2 linked regions of the Homo sapiens genome follow. The protein of the gene in region 1 binds, or shares a complex with, the protein of each later gene. Each region holds a gene or a part of one and is shown in the gene's direction. Other genes may lie near its edges.

The links.
Region 2: EIF3E (region 1) and EIF3D share a complex: the UniProt entries of both Homo sapiens proteins name them as parts of the eukaryotic translation initiation factor 3 (eIF-3) complex.

Annotation. Positions count from the first base shown.
Region 1 is NC_000008.11:108,238,710-108,245,733, reverse strand, and holds part of EIF3E (eukaryotic translation initiation factor 3 subunit E), read left to right. Parts: intron 1-3,820; coding exon 3,821-3,935; intron 3,936-5,658; coding exon 5,659-5,776; intron 5,777-7,024. UniProt on the Homo sapiens protein: Component of the eukaryotic translation initiation factor 3 (eIF-3) complex, which is required for several steps in the initiation of protein synthesis.
Region 2 is NC_000022.11:36,526,161-36,533,937, reverse strand, and holds the start of EIF3D (eukaryotic translation initiation factor 3 subunit D), read left to right. Parts: upstream 1-4,771; 5' UTR 4,772-4,862; intron 4,863-7,777. UniProt on the Homo sapiens protein: mRNA cap-binding component of the eukaryotic translation initiation factor 3 (eIF-3) complex, a complex required for several steps in the initiation of protein synthesis of a specialized repertoire of mRNAs.

The DNA of each region.
Region 1 (7,024 bases):
ACTCTTCTTTATTTTCATGTGAAGCAGAAGGCCAGATAGTGAAATATTTAGGACCCTGGGCTCTGAATTGGACCTTTCATGACTCGGTCATTTAATACCTCTGTGCAGTCAGAGCAGATTCTTTTACCCTCTTAACCTTTTCTCATGAATAAAATGTTAATACTACCACCAATCTCATCGGGTTAGAAAAATTACATGAGATAATGCATATAAAACACTACGCTCTTCTGGGACAGAGTGAGTACTCCTTAATGTTTTGTGTTTTGAGACAGGGTCTCGCTTTGTCACCTAAGCTGGAGTGCAGTGGCACAATCTTAGCTCATTACAGCCCTGACTTTCTGGGCTCAAGCAATTCTCCCACCTCAGCCCCAGAAGTAGCTGGGACTACAGGTGTGCGCCACCATGTCCGGCTGATTTTTTTTGTATTTTTTGTAGAGATGGGGTTTCACCATGTTACCCAGGCTGGTCTCAAACTCCTGAACTCAAGTGATCTGCCACCTTGGCCTCGCAAAGTGCTGGGATTACAGACATGAGCCACCACCCTTGGCTCTAAATGTTTTTTATTTTGGAAGACTAGCCCATTCTGTATTGGTATGGGATGGGAGGGGGGGGCAGTGAGGGTTTTGAGGAGTAAGGTAAGGACTGGAAATGGTTACTAAGAAACTGATCAAAGGAAAGTACAAGGATTGGTTAAGTGTGGAGGGCCCAACTGAGATTGGAAATCATACCTTAGAGCTAATAATGGGGTCATTCTCAGGGCGAGGAGCGGTAGAAGGCTATGGGAGTAGTATAGACATATTTAGGGGTAGGCTTGTATGTAAATGCCATTTAGAGAAGCACAGATGTGATCGAATAACATTATTCCCTAATTTTGAAACATTTTGTAGTCATCCTTAGCCAGAACCTAGAGAATAGGTGACTTTTTTTCCAGAGTTAGTGATTGACACTGAATTGTATATAGTTGGAGAAATTAGTTTGAAAGAATCAATGATAGAACTGAAGAGAAAATCTTTGAAATAGCTAAAAATGATATCCAAACTAAGGCAGAAAGTGACATCAAAAAGGGTATTACAAAAATTAGAAAGGGCAGAAAGTCTGAGATGATGAAGATTTTAATGGTAATGGTGGAAGGGGTTATCAGTTTTAAGTTGGAATTCTTGGAGATGAGGGGTTATCAGTTTTAAGTTGGAATTCTTGGAGATGAGATACATGATGAAAATTGTCATAATTTGAGGAATAAAGGAATTTTAGGGCTCAAGCTTTTAAAGAGTCATCAGTATGGCATTATATTTGTGTTGAATGACAGCAGAGGAAGAGACAGCAAAAAAAGATTCTTAATCTGTTAAAAAGTAATATGTTTTCAAGAGGTTGATAGACGACGGATCAGCAGACTATAGCCTGGGAATCAGATAGCAGCCTGTTTTTGTGTGGTTTTGGGGCTAAGAATAGTTTGTAACAGAGGAACATTTGCAAACATTAGCAATTATAGAATATTAACTTTATACCCCAATTAAGTGAAATAATTTCTCTTGAAAAAGCATTCTATTCTTATTAATAGACCTGTATTACAAAAACTTTTACTGTTATTATTTCTGTTTCAAAATTTTTAAAAAATTGTGGAAATTTGATTCTCGTTTTTCATGTGAGTACTTATATAGTATTTTCAATTGTTGCTTCTTGATACAAAGTCTGAAGTATTTGCTTTCTGCTTATGAGGCAGAATTGAGAGGCATATGTAGATTTGAGAACAGGACAGTAACACCTGATGGTAGAGGAGCAAGGCTATTGAATCTATTGTGGAGAGAGACGTGGCAAATTAAAAGTTACTAGTGGAGTGGGGAGAGGTAGCGTGCTTGGAAAAGAATGTTTTTATTTAAGATTAGTGTTTCTATAGGGCAAAGTGATGAGAAGTTAAGGTTTTTTAGGTAAATTTTTTATCAGATATGACGTTCATTCATACAAGTACACAAATATAAATGTACTGGTCAATGATACATATTTTTTTCAAAATGAATAGCGAATACATTTATGTGACCACCACTCAGATTAATAAATAAAACATTACAGACATCCTTTTTTTTTTTTTTTTTTTTTTCTTTTTTTTTGAGACAGAGTCTTGCTCTGTGGCCCAGGCTGGAGTGCAGTGGCGCAATCTCGGCTCACTGCAAGTTCCACCTCCTGGGTTCACGTCATTCTCCTGCCTCAGCCTCCCGAGTAGCTGGGACTACAGGCGCCCACCACCACGCCCGGCTAATTTTTTGTATTTTTAGTAGAGACAGGGTTTCACCGTGTTAGCCAGGATGGTCTCGATCTCCTGACCTCGTGATCCGCCTGCCTCGGCCTCCCAAAGTGCTGGGATTACAGGCGTGAGCCACTGCGCCTGGCGACATCCTTAAACCTTCATCTTGACCCCTGTTAGTCACTACTCACACCCCCTAAAGGTAAGCTGTAGTCTGATGATTCATTTTGCCTGTTTTTGATTTTTATATAGGTGGAGTTAAGCATTTACCACCATGTACTGCTTTGTATGACATCTTTCACTCAGCATTGTTTGTGAGTCATCATGTTTTTAGGATAGCAGTAGTAGTTCATTGATTTTTCAGTGCCGAATGTTAATCTATTATGAGTATGCTGTGGTTTGTTTTCTCATTTTAACATTGATAGACTTGGCTATTACAAATAGTGCTCCTGTGTACATTTTTGGAAGTGCACTTTGACTATATGCACCCATTTGTTTTGGATGCCTCGAAACAATTGCTGGATCAAAAAGTATGTTTGGCTTTGGGAGATAAAAATCTTACAAAGTAGTTGTATTCCTGCCAGAAGAGAATAGGTTCCAGTTAGTCTACATCCACACCAACACTGGTATTGTCAGGATTTTTTAGGTTTTTATTGTAATTTTTAGTATGCATTTCCTTATGATTAATGACGTTGAGAACCTTTTCATGTGTCTGTTGGCCATTTGGTTGTCTTCTTTTGCGAAGTGCCTATCTTTTAGCCATTTCAATTGCAAGGTCTGTCTTGTCTTACTCATTTATAGGAGTTCTGCATGTAATTTGGAAGGTTCGATTTTGCTCTCATGGCTAAATACCCTTTGACCACCTTCATCTTTATTTTTTGTGGGCAGTGAAATATTGTGGCATTTTCTTGGATTTTTCTTTCCTTGCAAAATTAAGTTCAGTACAGAAATCTTTTCTTTTGCTGAAGCATTTCTGTCCGTGAATATTTTGTAGAATCTTTACATATTACTCAGTACACTTCATGTTGTTGTGAGTTTGTGTATATGTATCTATTTGCTCCCTGTACTATAGGTTAAATTATGCTTTTTTGGATCCTTTGCAAAGCAAAAGCCTGATCTGACATGGTTGACTTAAAAACTTGGTGCAGGTTGTTTCAGCAATGTGGATGGAGAAGCATATAGGAGTTTATTACTGATTACCTGGATGTGGAGAAGTGACAGCTATATGTGCTTTACAGGAAAGATGGCGTGGGTTTTATTTATACACAGCCTTGCCTAGAAAGGGTAAGAGATGGTTTGTAGGGACACATAAAAAATAAGGTCATGTAAATCAGAAGTAGGTGGGAATGTCTACAGTAATTCTCTTCATTTTAAAATTTTTAGGTAAGTAAAATACTTTTACGTCTATAGGTTGGTTGCTTGCCATATTGCTTGCCATTATTACAAGAGGGGAATGTTAATGGTTTATCGTATTTTATAAAGTATTTCTTGAAATATATTTCCAGGTAAATTAGTTTTAGTATTAATCAGTTTATTTGGGGAACTTAAATATATTCATTAGAAAGTTATCTTCTTTTGCAGATATATAATGAAAAGGAATTATTACAAGGTAAATTGGACCTTCTTAGTGATACCAACATGGTAGACTTTGCTATGGATGTATACAAAAACCTTTATTCTGATGATATTCCTCATGGTAAGTTTTGTCATTAGAACTGAAACTTGTCTTGTGACTTGAGGATGTGTGTATTAAAGTTTTATGATTTATAAGACAGCTTTAGCCAAAAGGCTTAAATATGATTTGAATGTTAATGTTCTTTGGGTGAGAGGTTATATAAAGGTTTCATATCTTCCGAAATATATTGTTTTCTCCCTGTGAAAGATGTGGAACTACTTTAAAATATGGTCATCAGATGCCTTCATTTCATAGTATGTATCATCAAAGTTGTGCTTATGATTCACATTCCTTAGAATTATCTGAGAATGTTGCAGTTCTTGGGTTGCTAACTTTTTCAGTTAGTGCATTGTGTGCCTTAGAGTTTTGTGTTTTTTTTTTTAATTTTGAGGCATCTAGTGTAGACATTGTTCTCCAAATATGGTCCCCAGGACCAGCATCATCAGTTCACCTGGGAGAGCTTGTTAGAAATGCAGGTTTTTGGCCACACACCAGACCTACTTAATCAAAACTGTTAAGTGGTCCTCTTAAGTTTGGGAAATAATTCTGTGTCATTTCTTCAATGCACATTACATTTTTAAAGGTTCCAAGAATTTTGGCAGTAGAGAAATACAGTATACTGTGATTAAATTGGCATTTCTCAAAATTTGATCATAGATCTTCTGTGTTTCAGAAAGACTGCTCTAGAATATACTTTCTAATATATAATACAGACATTATTACATTAAACATAATCCACATGTTTGACTTGTAGTTCCCTGCAATAACAGTATCTCTTTTTTAGTTTGTCATGGATAAACAAAAAGGAAACTATTTCTTAGTTTCTTTCTTTTTTTTTTTGAGATGGAGTCTCGCTGTGTTGCCCGGGCTGGAGTGCAGTGGTGCGATCTCGGCTCACTGTAAGCTCCGCCTCCCGGGTTCACGCCATTCTCCTGCCTCAGCCTCCCGAGTAGCTGGGACTACAGGTGCCCACCACCATGCCCAGCTAATTTTTGTATTTTTAGTAGAGACGGGGTTTCACCATATTGGCCAGGCTGGTCTTGAACTCCTGACCTCGTGATCAGCCCGCCTTGGCCTCCCAAGTTGCTGGGGTTACAGGCGTGCGCCCTTGCCCCTGGCCTATTTCTTAGTTTCTTAATGAAACATTAAGGTGTTACCAGAGTTGGTTATGTGCAAGTTTTCTCCACCTTTTCATAGTATAGTAAAAGGAACGATAGAATTTGGTTTGAGAGATTATAGAGCTGGATTTGTGGTTAAAAGAGATTATTTAATGGATTTAAATTCCATTCAACCTAGTTGATAACCTGTAATAGTAATATGTAAATCCCTCTGAGTTTTTCTTCAAAAACTCTGGGATAATATTCACCTAAGAAAATTAAATGAGAACAAATATAAAAACACTTGGAAAGAAGTTTCTGCAATGGAGAATTAAATGATAGATAATTGGGTCCTACCCTTTTTTTCTTTCACATCCCTCTGTCACCCCAAGGCTGTATATTCTCTAGTTTCCCTCAAGAGTAGGAAGAGGATTCCCTTTTCCTTTTTGTGCCTTTGTATTAGTAGAAAAAAGAAATTAGGGATCGGGGACATTTCTGACTGAGTAGCCCATGGCATATGAATATATTGGGGGTAAATAAATATATGTATAGTTTAAATACACTGAAAAATTTCCAGACATTCTCATGATGAGTAGCACAATTTAACATTCCTTAACATTGTAGTGCTCTTCTGCATTTTTAATTAGCTTTGAGAGAGAAAAGAACCACAGTGGTTGCACAACTGAAACAGCTTCAGGCAGAAACAGAACCAATTGTGAAGATGTTTGAAGATCCAGAAACTACAAGGCAAATGCAGTCAACCAGGTAAACTCGTCTTAATTTTGAATTCTAAAAATTCTCCTTTCTGGATTAATACAAATGTTAATTCAAACTTTATCCAGTATCCCATAGTAAAAGTTCATGGTTTAAATGAGTGCTTTATTCATTTTTAATTTTTGTTTATCCTTATTTTGTAGGGGCCAGTATAATTAATAAATGTTAATATTAACACTAAGTTTTTTTCCTAAAAAAAACTTCTTTAGTACTTATCTATACTGATTATACTACAGAAATTCCATCTCCTGTTTCCCCCTTCCTGGGGACATTTGGCAATGTCTGGAAATACTTTTTGGTTGTCATAACTGGAGGGGTGCTATAGGGACCTAGTGAGTAGAGGCCAGTTATGCTGTTAAACATCCTACAGTGCATAGGACAAGCACTGCTGCCGCTACTCCCCAACAAAGAATTATCCGACTGAAAATGTCCATTAAGAAACCCTGTTCCACTGTGTGGTGGCTCACACCTGTAATCTCAGCACTTGGGGAGGTGGAGGCAAGTGAATCCGTTGAGCCTAGGAGTTTGAGACCAGCCTGGGCAACATGGCGAAACCCTCTATCTTACCAAAAAATTAAAACCAATAAAAAGTTAGCCAGGTGTGGTGGTGTGCGCTTGTAGTCTCAGCTTACTTGCTACTTGGGAGGCTGAGGTCAGAGGATGGCTTGAGCCCGGGAGGCGGAGGTTGCAATGAGTCAGTGTCATAATACCACTGCATTCCAAAGTAGGTGACATAATGAGACACCATCTCAGGAAAAAATAAAAAAGAAACCCTGTGCTTGGGCAATACCTAGAACCTTAGAACACATGGGTATCTCGTTATAAGAGAAACCTGAGCTCACTTTATCCCTGGCTACATTCTTTCATACCCTTCCAAGCTCCATGCCCAAGGAGGGTAGTTTTGAGCTGATAAGATTATTTTATTCCTAACTTCCCTTTACCTACAAATAGACGTTACTGTTTCGTTTCCAAAGAAAACATATTGCCTTAGTCTGACGTAGTACATGTCACGGGTGGAAGTCTTTTGGGTTACTAGAAACATTTAAAAATAAAATCTCTTACTAAAATTGAATATTGTCATTTGAGATAAATCCTAGCTACCAGTAAATTCACTTGAGGAATTGCTGGATATTTTGCCGTGCTATACCTTTGATTTCTATGTATTTAAACCAAATTTTTAGAGATTGGCTCTTAAGTTTTCCTTTGTGATTTGTGAAGGTGTTACCAGATATTTTTAGA
Region 2 (7,777 bases), on another chromosome or scaffold:
GGATCACAGGGTGCCTTCCACCACACCTGGCTAATTTTTGTTTTTTTAGTAGAGGATTTCACCATTTTGGCCAGGCTGGTCTCAAACTCCTGACCTCAGGTGATCTGCCCGCCTTGGCCTCTCAAAGTGCTGGGATTACAGGCATGAGACACCACCACTGGCCAGATTCTTTTTTTCATTAACTCAGTCAATGAGTACCTACTTAAGCACCTACTCTATGCCAGTGATACGCTTTGGCTGTGTCCTCACCAAAATCTCATCTTGAATTCCCATGTGCTGTGAGAGGGACCCAGGGGGAGGTAATCGAATCATGGGGGCAGGTCTTTTCCATGCTGTTCTCATGATAGTGAATAAGTCTCACAAGATCTGACGATTTTAAAAGGGGGAGTTCCCCTACACAAGCGCTCTCTCTTTGCCTGCTACCATCCATGTAAAATGTGACTTGCTCCTCCTTGCCTTCTGCCATGATTGTGAGGCCTCCCCAGCCATGTGGAACTGTAAGTCCATTAAACCTCTTTCTTCTGTAAATTTCCCAGTCTCCAGTATGTCTTTATCAGCAGCATGAAAATGGACTAATACAATCACCTGTTTTAGAAATGATGGTCAGAAAAGACCTGCATAAGGAGTTAACTCTCGAGCAGAGGCATAGATGATGAGACCAATTCAACTACCAGGAAACCTGGGGGAAGAGTGTGCCATGCAGAAAGAACGTCAAGTCCAGAGGCCCTGCTGAGATGGAAAGAAGGCTGGTGGGCTGGGCACAGTGGCTCACGCCTGTAATCCCAGCACTTTGGGAGGCCAAGGTGGATGGATCACTGGAGGTCAGGAGTTTGAGACCAGCCTGGCCAACATGATGAATCCCCGTCTCTACTAAAAATACAAAAACTAGCCTGGTGTGGAGGCACACACCTGTAGTTCCAGCTACTTGGGAGGCTGAGGCAGGAGAATCACTTGAACCCCAGAGGCAGAGGTTGCAGTGAGCCAAGATCACACCACTGCACTCCAGGCTGGACAACAGAGCTAGACTCCGTTTCAAAAAAAAAAAAAAGAAAAAGAAAGAAAGAAGTTCAGTGTATTTAAGGCACAAGAAGAATATGGTGGCTAGAGGTAGACCAGTGGCCAGGTGAGGTGGCTTACACCTGTAATCCCAGCATATTGGGAGGCCAAGGCTGGAGGATGGCTTAAGCCCAGGAGTTCCAGACCAGCCGGGGCAACATAGTGAGACCCCATTTCTACAAAAAATTAAAAATTAGCCAGGAGTGGCAGCATGAGCCTCTAGTCCCACCTACTCGGAGGCTGAGGTGGGAGGATTGCTTGAGCCCAAAAGGTCAAGACTGCAGTGAGCCATGATCACACCACTGCACTCCAGCCTGGACAACAGAGCAAGACCCTGTCTCAAAGAAGTAAATATTTTAAAAATAACAAAGGTAGACAGTGACCACACAGGCCACAAAAAGATATTCATATTTCCCTCTAAGCATATAATGGGAAGCTAGTAGAAGGTTGTGGACAGATTCCTTTGACCACCATATAGAGAAGAAACCCTAGAGCAGCAAGAGTGTATCCAAGCGTGATGTGAAATGGGGATAAAAAGTGATAGCATTCGGCTGGGCACAGTGGCTCACGCCTGTAATCCCAGCACTTTGAGAGGCCGAGGCGGGTGGATCACAAGGTCAAGAGTTCGAGACCAGCCTGACCAACATGGAGAAACCCCATCTCTACTAAAGATACAAAAAATTAGGCAGGCGTGGTGGCACACGCCTGTAATCCCAGCTACTTGGGAGGCTGAGGCAGGAGAATTGCTTGAACCCGGGAGGCGGAGGTTGCAGTGAGCTGAGATTGCGCCACTGCACACCAGCCTGGGTGACAGGGCAAGACTCTGTCTCAAAAAAAAAAAAAAAAAAAAAGTGATAGCATTCAAGATGCATTGTGCAAGTAGAATAAAGAGAACATAGTGAAGAACTAAATGTGGGAGGGAAGGAAAAACGAACTACCAGTGATGACTACAAGGCTTTCCACTGGGCACAATTCACCAGACACCATTAACAAAAATTAGGAAAAAAAAAAAATGAGCAGTTGGGAGAGAGCTTATGGAAATAGGTGCTGCTATTAGCATTCTCATTTTTCAGATGAATAAGCAGGTTTAGAGAGGTTGAATAGGCCAGGTGCGGTGGCTCACGCCTGTAATCCCAGCACTTTGAGAGGCTGAGGCGGGTGGATCACAAGGTCAGGAGTTCGAGACCAGCCTGACCAACATGGTGAAACCCCGTCTCTACTAACAGTACAAAAAATTAGCCGGATATGGTGGTGGGCACCTGTAATCCCAGCTACTCGGGAGGCTGGGGCAGATAATTGCTTGAACCTGGGAGGCAGAGGTTGCAGCGAGCCGAGATCTCGCCACTGCACTCCAGCCTGGGCAACAGAGCGAGACTCTGTCTCAAAAAAAAAAAAAAAAAAAAAAAGAGGTTGAATAACCTGTCCAAGTTCACCCAAATGATAAGTGGAATTACTAAGTCCTTTCACACACATTTATTTTCACCCCCACAGCGCCCTCTAATTATCATCTTCAATTTACAAATAAGGAAACAAGGCAAGGAATGTGAAGGCCACACATAGCTATCAAGTGGCAGAGCTGGCTGGGCACAGTGGCTTATGCCTGTAATCCCAACACTTTGGGAGGCCGAGGCGGGGGGATCACAAGGTCAAGGGATTGAGACCATCCCAGCCAACATGGTGAAACCCTGTCTCTACTAAAAATATAAAAATTAGCTGGGCATGGTGGCGCATGCCTGTATTCCCAGCTACTCAGGAGGCTGAGACAGGAGAATCACTTGAACCCAGGAGGTGGACGTTGCAGTGAGCTGAGATCGCGCCACTGCACTCCCGCCTGGCAACAGAGCGACACTCCGTCTCAAAAAAAAAAAAAGAAAAGAAAAGAAAAAAAAAAGAATGTGGCAGAGCCTAGACTTCAGGTATATTTTCTAATAAAGGAGACATACTAGGCGGCTAAGGAAACCTATGTCAGGTAGAAAGGATCTGAGGTTTGAATAAAGTCATGCCCTCAGATTATCTTTCATTGTTTTAAAATTCCGAAAGAAAGACACCAGGAGGAACTCCATAGCCTGGGAGTTGCTGAGAGGACAGCACTGTTATCTACTGTAGTAAAGCAGTTCCTGAGTCGTCACTTCAGAATCACAGCTAATGCGGAGCTCTTGGGCTCCAGCATAAACATATCCGTATAATCTATCAAAATGAGACCCAGAATCTGAATTTTTAAAAATACTATCCTGGTCAGGTGTGGTGGCTCACGCCCGTAATCCCAGCACTTTGGGAGACCGAGACAGGAGGACTGCTTGAGCCCAGGAGTTTGAGACTAGCCTTGGCAACATGATGAGACTTCGTCTCCACAGAAGTTTTTTTTTTTTTTTTTAATTAGCCAGGCAGCCGGACGCAGTGGCTCACGCCTGTAATCCTAGCACTTTGGGAGGCCGAGGTGGGTAGATCACCTGAGGTCAGGAGTTCGAGACCAGCCTGGTCAGCAAGGTGAAACCCCGTCTCTACTAAAAGGAAAATTAGCCGGGCATGTTGGTACACGCCTGCAATCCCAGCTACTCGGGAGACTGAAGCAGGAGAATCACCTGAACCTGGGATGCGGAGGTTGCAGTGAACTGAGATAGCGCCACTGCACTCCACTCCAGCCTGGAAGACAGAGCAAGACTCCGTCTAAAAAAAAAAATTAGCCAGGCATGGTGGCATGCACCTGTAGCCTCAGCTGCTCCGCACGCTGAGGCGAGAGGACCACTTTAGACCAGGAGTTAAAGACCAGCCCGGGCAACATAGTGAGACGCTGTCTCTACAAAATTTTTAAAAATCATTAGCTGGCCGGGTACGGTGACTCATGCCTGTAACCCTAGCCCCAGTGGGTGGACTGTTGAGCTCAGGAGTTTGAGACCAGCCTGAGCAACATAGCAAAACCCCATCTCTACCAAAAATACAAAAATTAGGCAGGCGTGGTTGTGCGTGCCTGTGTACACCAACGACTCGGGAGGCTGAACTGGGAGGATCGCTTGTACCTGAGAAGTCGAGGGTGCAATAAGCCGTGATCCTGCCACTACATTTCAGCCTGGGCGACAGAGCGAAACCCTGTCTCAAAAAATAAATAAAAATAAATAAAAACACTGTTCCAGAAATCCCTGTCCTACAATTAAGTTTGAGAACTGCGGAAGTATGGTTTGAACTCTGGCGGTTAGAACCCTAAACTAACAGTCTGATCTAGGCAGGTCACTTGGCACTTCTGAGCCTCAGTTTCCACAACTATAAAGGCGGAGGAGTAACAATAAGGACCGCCTAAGACACCGACGGACCTCCCCTGCGCTGAGTTTCACATTAAGCAGGCAGGTAGAACAGGCGGGGAGTCGCGGGTGACGGTGGGATACATGGGGGCTGAGGCGCGCCGCGAAGCATTGTGGGACACAGAAGGGCGCCAGTCGCTCCCCGCCTCGAGCTTCGATTGCGCGGCCGCCAAGTTTCAGTGATGAACGCCCTCTTTGGGCGTCCCCGGATACCGCCTGACGTAGTGCCAATCACACCTCTCGCGTCTCGGCGCCTCGGAGGCTAATGAGGACGCCTGGCGAAACGCAGTAACGGATTTCCGGGTGGACCTTCGCTTTACGGCTCGTGAGTTCTTCCGCCCAACCCAGAGGAAGCGGGAGAGCAGTTTACGACAGCGCCGGTCGTGTTTACGGCGGCGCCCGCTGCGCGCGCATGTTTCCTCTTTTCCTGGTTTCTCAAGAGTGCTGCTGCTAACGCGGTCCCCGGCACGCACCATCTGTTGCCATCCCGGCCGGCCGAGGCCATTGCAGGTGAGCGGCGTGTTTCATAGGTTCCTGCGGCCCTCCGGAGCCGGTTCGGACTAGGTCCAGCCTTCGGGGGGCCTCCCGGAAGAGACCTCTCTTAGTCCCTTCCTGCTGTTGCCGTCCCTCCGCTGGGCGGGGCAGGAATCCACTTTCGGGGGCCCCGCGTCCCGCACGCTACTGAACGCGGGACACGACCTTGTGGGTGAGGTCCTTGGCCCTCGGCCCTGCTCAGTGCCCATGAGCTGGGTGAATTTGATTGTCACTTAACTCACCTGGGTTAAGACGGAGGGGTAACAACAAAGTCTTTCTGAAGTGGCCGAAAACTCCCTGACTTTTTGAGTGAGGTCTTAGGGGTACCAGGCTGAGCGGTGTTTGGCCCCTGTTCTTAGGAATTCACAGTGCATAGGTTATCTTTCCTTTTTTGTGAAACTGGAGGCTAGGATAGAGAAGTAGATTTGATCTCTGATCTTAAATCTACCCCACCCCCTGTTCAGCGATGGACGGCTTATGATCTGTAGTGGCCTGCCAACCACAGAGCCCCTTCTGAGTGCCCTCTTGGAACCTCCCTATCCTGCCCCTGTGACTAGTACAGCTGTTACTTCGTTTTTGCTGAGCGGCTCAGTTTCTCCTCCTGGTTCCGCTCTGCTCTTAAAAAAAAAAACATTTATTAAAGCCAGGGTATCTCATCCCTGGCTTTCCAGGGAGGTGATGCAGGTCGAGCCTCGGGCCTCTTCCCTTCTTGAGCTTCTGACAGAACCCGATTTTTTAAAGTGTGTTTTGAGACTCGTTGTCTTGGTATTATGATGTACGGTCTCAAACCCCTGATCTTTGCGGGCTGCTGCCCAGCTGTAATATAATGGAAAGAAGGCTGGACTGACAGCAGGCAACCCTGGAAATCAAATCTGTTTTGAAATGATGAGGTCAGCTGCTTGAGTAGGCTGAGCTTCAAATTTTTGCCTCTAAAGTAGGGGTGGGGGGGTGGTCAATGGTGTTAAATTATCTGGTATAGGGCCTAACACGTAGGAGCTCAGCAATATTTATTTAATACAAATTGTTCTGAGACCACCACCCTTTTTCTTCTGTCCTCTTCCTATAGTTTCTATTAGAAAGATGAAACTTCTAGGTTCATCCTGTGTTGCTGTCACCCAAATGTCATCTCTGAAGGAAGCCTCAATCTCCCCAGCATGGGGCTTTGAGGAGAGTTTACTAAGTTCAGCATACCTGTTCTTTTGATTGCTCTCCAGCCTCCAAGAAACATTTGATTTTTGTTTTTTTGAGACGGAGTCTTGCTCTGTTGCCCAGGCTGGAGTGTAATGGCAGGATCTTGGCTCACTGCAACCTCCGCCTCCTGAGTAGCTGGTATTACAGGTGCCCGCCACCACGCCCAGCTAATTTTTGTATTTTTAGTAGAGACTGGGTTTCACCATGTTGACCAGGCTGGTCTCGAACTGCTGACCTCGTGATCCGCCCACCTCGGCCTCTCAAAGTGCTGGGATTACAGGCGTGAGCCACCGCGCCCGGCCTCCAAGAAATACTTGTGTAGTGAATTTTCCTCTAGGAACTCGCCTTCTAAGCATTTTCAGAAGGTTACAACGGAAGATAAATGCATAGGTTTTTTTATAGAAGTGTCGGGCAGCCATCTGCTATACAGCGCCGGTTTTTTAATTCCCAAGAGGGCTATAGCATTATGCAGAGTGCAGACTCTGGGGTCAGACTGCTTTGGTTCACGTTTTTCATCCACTAGCATTTCAACTTTGGGCAATTTCTTCATTTCTCTGTGCTTTGGTTTTCTTATCTGGAGAGTGCGGATAACATTGGCTCCTACCTCACAGGATTGTTGGCAGGACTGTATGAATGAATGAGTGGTAAACAGTAAGAACAGTGCCTGGCAGTATTCATGAACATTTAACATGGCAACTTTGGGCCTGAGGTCTGTGGGGACCTCCTTGGCCCTCTGGCAGTTCTTCTGCCTGGCTTTATGTCCGCTTGCACTGCACACAGGATTTGCGTTGATGGCAGAAAATTGAAACAATGAGAAAGGAAAATTGAATTTCAGGATATACTTAAAGATCTTTTTTTCTCAGCACTCTATATACATAAATGCACTTTTGCAAGTCTGAATACTTGTGTGGCATTATACAAAGTGCTTAGAACAAGGATCTTGTTTATTTTGCAGATGGAAAAGACTAAGGTGGCTGGACGTGGTGGCTCACGCCTGTAATCCCAGCACTTTGGGAGGTCGAGGCGGGAGGATCATTTGAGGTCAGGAGTTCAAGACTAGCCTGGACAACATGGTGAAACCCTGTCTCCACTAAAAACACAGAAAATAGCCAGGCGGCGCTTGCCTGTAATCCCAGCTACTCAGGAGGCTGAGGCAGGAGAATCGCTTGAACTCGGAAGGCGGAAGTTGCACGCCACTGCACCCCAGCATGGGTGACAAAGTGAGACTCTGTCTCAAAAAAAAAAAAGAAAGAAAGAAAAGACTACTAAGTCTTAGGGAAGTTGAGTTTGTATGAATTGGTGAAGGTATATCTCAGAACCAAAACAAGGTTACTATATTTGAAAAAACATTAGGACATTTTATCAAATCTGACACCATTAAATTTTTTTAAACACTTATGTAACACAGAAAAAGAAAAACTACCAATCAATACAACACCCTGTCAAACACAAGGTGCAGCCTCATTTTAAAGATGTTACAGTAAAAAGAGAGTGTCGTGGAATTAATGAAATATGAAAAATCAGTTTTGTTTGCATTCTTCTCAGTTTTAAGTACATATTCACAGTATAATTAACAAAAACAGTAGTAGTCGCTCAACAGTTGAGGGTTCCATTTTGCGTGTTGCTTTTTGAGTTCTATCATTTATGTCTTTGCTTACTTCATATGGAGGGTGTTTTGTACTCTGAGGCCTTCGTTCATG